Regions from separate parts of the Homo sapiens genome. Here region 2 is linked to region 1. The links come from fine-mapping of genetic effects on gene expression. Tissue or cell type: testis. Region 1 holds a variant in brackets; the other region holds the start of a gene. All regions are shown on one strand. Distances are from middle to middle.

Evidence for each region. PIP is the estimated chance that this variant, and not a neighbour inherited with it, causes the effect.
Region 2: it holds the start of ECT2L, and the variant in region 1 is fine-mapped to the expression of ECT2L in testis (GTEx, PIP 0.97).

What each region holds. Positions count from the first base shown.
Region 1 is chr6:138,429,395-138,432,078 of GRCh38, forward strand. NHSL1 (NHS like 1) reads right to left here. Exons shown (of 8, transcript NM_001144060.2): 6 at 999-2,684; 7 at 317-449. Among named protein-coding and RNA genes, the nearest start is that of MIR3145, 4.6 kb to the right of the region's middle. RefSeq lists enhancers at 790-1,291, 1,292-1,791. The variant G/C (reference allele first, on the strand shown) is at 1,098.
Region 2 is chr6:138,794,510-138,797,193 of GRCh38, forward strand. It overlaps ECT2L (epithelial cell transforming 2 like), which reads left to right and starts at 1,578. Exons shown (of 22, transcript NM_001077706.3): 1 at 1,578-1,683.

The DNA of each region.
Region 1 (2,684 bases):
TTAATCCGACTCTTGCTAATATACTCTGTCTTATGACTGCCACACTGCGCTCCTTGCCAGGAAGAGCAGCGCCTACCAGAACGTATCACATTGAGCCACTGTCCCCAATGTCATAAAAATCAGTGAGACAAAGTAAAACAGAAATTGGAGCCAGAGGAAATAAAACTGTAGAAACCCACTAAAAAATCAACAGTAAAGTTAAGGAGTTATGATTGGGTGACAGAAGAAACCTCAAGGAAGAAAAGTAAATTGAGGTGCTGCTTGGAAAGAAGGAATTACACAGTAGATTAAAGTCAGAGGAAGGAGTTTGAAATACCTGTGAATAGCTGCAAAAAGGTCTTCTGTGGTCCTGGGTCGACTGGGGGTCATTACCTCATCATTCCCGTCTTCCTTGAGGAAGTCACAGGCCTCTGAGGATGAACCGGCTGCGTTGGTCTCCGGCACCCCAGCTACAGAAGAGCAGGCAGGCATACAAGACGCACAAGTGACTGGAATTTCAGTCCTCAGCCAAGCTTCTAAATATGCTGCTTCCCTGCCATTCCCGACAATGTGAGAACCACAGGGAGATGCCGTGGGTCTGTAGTTTGATAGTTTACAAAGAAGGGAGGAAATGACACTAGCCTGAGAGCCAGAGCTCATTCTTTGTTAAAGTATGGAACGCCCATGGCATCTCTCTTAAATTTTGTTGCAACGTTTCTTTGCGCGGCTCTTCGGAAGGGAGGTGTTACCCATTGCTATTTAATACCCAGCCTGCTGCAGATCATCTCCATCCCCCTATTTTCTGCCATGCCTTTAGGTCTAGATTTTAAAAATAATAACAAAATGCAAAGTTGGTAACTTAATCTGTGTTTTAACACAGGAAGCCTACATACTGCTAGCTTTAACAGGAATCTGATCTACCTGGGTTCTTTCCACGTGTGAGCATTCAACAACCCTATCTGGTTCAGCTGCATATGGGCAGAGGGCACAGGAGAGAGAAGCCAGGAAGCCAGACTCACCTGCTCCGTCCTGTTGAGATAGGCAGCTCTCCCCATCGCCCCCAGTATCCGCACTGTTCTCGGCTGGCTCCTCCTGCTTGGGGGCTGGTGAGACATCAG[G/C]CTGAACCATGGGGACATTGGCTTCCACTCTGCTGGGAGACATGGATCCTGCAGCTCCTCCCTCAAGAACCGAGGTGCCAGGGTGCGTGGCATGAGAGCCAGCTTGGGCTGCAGAACTCTCTTTTGCCTCCCTGCTGTGCACAGAGCCCTCCTCTCCCGTCGTGGGGCTGGGCACAGCTCGGAGGGCTTCGCTCACGTTCTCTGCGGGCTCCACTGCAAAATCTTTCTGCGGAGGTGGTACCACCAGGAACAGTTTGGGCTTCTTGGAAATGGGGGGTGGCTTCCTGCTGGGTGAAGAGTCTGGGAGTGGGGTGGTGCTGGGGCTGGGCCGAGCCTCTGCCTCCCCAGCGCTTGGAGCTCCAGGGCTGCGGCTCACAGGGCCACCACGCTCAGCCGCACTGCCATGGTCACCCTGACTCGAGCTCTTGGCAGGCGTCGGAAGCGAGCTTGTCACAGAGGCAGGCTGGCTTTCACTCTCCATTTCATTTGTGCTATTTCGGGATTTCAGGAAAGCAGATGGCTTTAAGTGGTACTGTGGAGCAACTGGAGTTCGTTGTTCCTGAGCTGTTCGTTCAGACAACTGTGCCGCCTCAGCGCCTGAGTTCTTTCTCACGGGCCTCAACTGCACCATCTGCAATGCTTCCGTGGTTATCAGGGGCATGGGGGGCCTGCTGGTCTCCTCCTTGGTAGAAGGCGGCCTCAAGGATCCCCGGGAGGATTCTGGCTGGCCAGAATTTGTGAAAGGCGGCCTGGTGTCTTTCATGAATTTGGGGTCAAGAGGTGGGGCAGGTGGGGGTTCCGAGGAAGGTAAGAGAGGTGGGGGCAATGGCAAGGACACAGGTGAATCTGGAAGAATGGGGCTCAGTGCAGGGCGGGGAGGAGAAAGGCACCAATCAGGTGGGGAGCAGAAAGGAATGAGAGCTTCTGGCGGCGGAGGGGGGAACACAGGAGAGTGAGGCAGAGGAGAGCCCTGGGAGCAATCTGTGACAGGAGGTGGGGGAGGAAGGAAAGGAGACCTGTCTGCAGGACAAGGGAATGGAGGAGAGGGAACAGGAGGAGGAGGAGGAGCCGGGGGAGAGCCCACGGCTGGATCCAGCTTCTTCATAGTGCCACTTCCTTCAGTAGAAGTACTAGAAGAAAGAGAAGTGGACGATGAGGAAATGGATACTGAAGATATCAGAGAGGACTTCCTTTCTGGTACCTTGGGCTTGGGCTTCCCCTTCCCGTTTGCTGGTGACACTGATTTTAAAAACACAGGCACAGGGGTGAGTGCTGTGGGTGTATTCGACTGGCTGGAATACCCACTGGATGGAGAAATGACTCTGTGTGACTTCTCTGGTGACATGATCTTTGGTTTGACTGAACCACCGGGCACTTGGGGCATTGTGGCTCTGGACCCTTCTTGGACATGGCGGACTGGCCCGTTCCCAGTGGGCACCCCACTGCTGGTTGAACAGCCCCCTGCCGGGTTCCCCGGATCTTCCTGCATGCCCGTGTAGTCAATGTAATAACCCCAGGGGTCCGTGTACTCTGACTTGACGCTGCTTGTGTCACTCTGCGATGGCGTGGCCCCGCACAGGGAGTAGA
Region 2 (2,684 bases), 370 kb after region 1:
TTTCCAGGCCACAGAAATAAGCACCTAATTGGGGGAGGGGAGGAGAGGGACTTACTGAATATTTTTCAAATCTTGATTTTAATAATTTTTGGCTTTCTGAATTCAAAGTATTTTGATCAGTAAATTGGTCTTTTTAATACCCCTTTTAAAAATTACAGCATCATGGAGGAAACTTCATTTGGGTTGTGAGAATAGGGATTTAAGGGGGAAAAAGTCGTACTCTAGGGTCTGACAGGGCGAAAGGACACTTTGTCATGTGACATGTTTTTCTTGGATTGGTCCTGAGATAGAGTAAAGCAAAAAGCTGGTTCCTGCGGGTTGTGACAGAGCAGTGGATTGACCTTGTTTATTCACTTGGTTCATTCGCCCTTTGTGTCACAGGGCCCTAAATGGGTCCCAGGTAGCGAAATATTAGCTTATCTAATTTGTATCCTTTCACACTCCTTAAACACATGTTCAAGGAAACAGGAAAAAATGCAGTGCCTGGATTAGAATAAAATTTAAGGCCTGGTTTGGTGACAGGCACCAGTACTTTTAGCTACTCTGGAGGCTGAGGCGGGAGGATTGCTTGAGCCCAGGAGTTCTAGGCTATAGTGTACAATGATGATTTTACTGGCATACAGATGAAAAAGAAAAAGATATTTGAAATAAAAATAAAAATATAGTGCACAATGACCAGGCCTGTGAATAGCCACTGCACTCCAGCCTAGGCAGCATAGCAAGATCACATTTCTCATATGAAACTTTACTAGAATGAAACTTATGGTTTATTACATAGATGTTGCTTATTCGTTGTAGGAAAAATTGAATTACAGATGATTTTTAAAACTACCAGAGCAAACCATTTAACCTATTTGTGTACATACTCCCAGATTTCTTACACACGTTGCAAAAAAAATAGATCGTACCATTCTGCTGGTTTTCTAAGCTGCTTTTTGTAAGTAATGTACTGTGAGCATCTTTTCATGGCCATAACTATTACATACAAAAGAAAAAAACAGGCTTCACAATAAATAGTTAAAAGACATTTTGACCTGAAACTAATGAAGAAGGGTTTTTTGGTTTTGTTTTTGTACCTCCTGTATAATGCTGAAATTGGTAATTCTGCAGTAAATATTAACATTTTCTGAGGATCTGCTGAAGATGAATGTGACAAAAAATAAGAAACTCCACTTTCCTCATCACACAGCCTTAATTAACATCGCTGGCTTTGTTTGAGATCAAGCAAACGTTGGCTTCAGTGTCCAAGTCTCTTCTTGGGGTCCCACGGCCTTGGGTCTGGCACCTCTGCTGGGCACCTCGCAGGGCTTCCGAGACGTGCCGCGACCCACGGGACCCCACGGAAGCTTTCTCCCACCGCAAGCTCCCTGGAGGCAGGGAAAGGAGCCGGGACCCGAGCCTAGCTGGCCTCAAGAGAAGGGCGGTGGCTCGCACGGCGCGGGCGGCTTTGCTCACTGCAGCTGGGGAGATGCAGGTTGGCCGTCCGGGCGCGGCGGCGGGAGGGGCTGCGGGCCTGTGGGGCGGGGTGGTGGCTCCGTGTTGTTGGATCCCTATGGAGATGACCCTGTCCCTGCCCCACCCCTCTCCGGAGCTGCGGCCCGAGTTGGCGCACTCGATTTTCACTGCGCGGTTCCAAGAGGAGACAGCCGCCACTGTACCGGGCCTCATAGCCACTTCCTAGAGGTAAAGCCCGTGGCTTCTGAGCCGCTAGTCTTTTTCTTGGGGCCGCCCGGGGCACATCGCCTGGGCCGGCTTAGTTTCCCAGTGCAGTCGCCCAGGAAGACCCTAAGCAGCGCTGAGGGGCGCAGGGCCCTCCCTCCGCGACCCTGGAGTCCCTTAGCAGCTCTGGAATTAACCAAGATTCTGAAGAGGCTCTGGGGAGAAACAAAATCCACGCGTAGGGTAGGGTTTGCATCGGGCCATGCCAAGTAAACTCTTACCTCCTCCAGAGAACTGATTTGGGATCGAAGTAAAGTTCTTGAACACTTTGGAAAACGCTGATTTTCATAGGTTCACACCAACTGCCTTCTTCCTTCTGACAGTTCTCTCCCTCTTTCCTCCTATGGGGTCCAAAAATGTAGGGAGTAGGGTGGGGGCTGGGTTGGGGGAATGAGGGAGGAATACAAAAAATCTACTGTGAATATAGGTCTTGGTTATAAGGATAGCTCTAAGAGTTAATATGCTAAGATTTGATGAGCAGGACAAATAAAACAGTGGTACTTTAAAATATCGATTTAAAAATACCGATGCTGTGCTTATTAATAAACTTTGCATATGTATCAGAACACAATATCCTGACATCATTGGTGTTAAAGTTCACTGCAACCCATGCAATTGTATCCAAGCCTGTTAAAGTCTGTTCTGCAGGAACTGACATTTGTGCTCCACAGAAACCTCAAAAATCATGCTCTACAAACACTTATTTCAGTGGGAGGAAGAAGGGTTAAGGACTTGGAAGTTTTATAGCAACAGTTGCATCTTGTTTGTTACAGCTTTAGTTTTATAGCTTTAAACTTATAAATCAGTGAGCACATCCACCATTTGAAAATACCAGCACAAGTATGGTATTTTCTATCACCGCCTGTAAGATCAATAGCCCAGGTTTCCTCAAAACACGCCATTATTTTCATTATCCATTGCTTAGTGTGTACTTAATAAAAATTATATACTGGCATGTAGTTTTA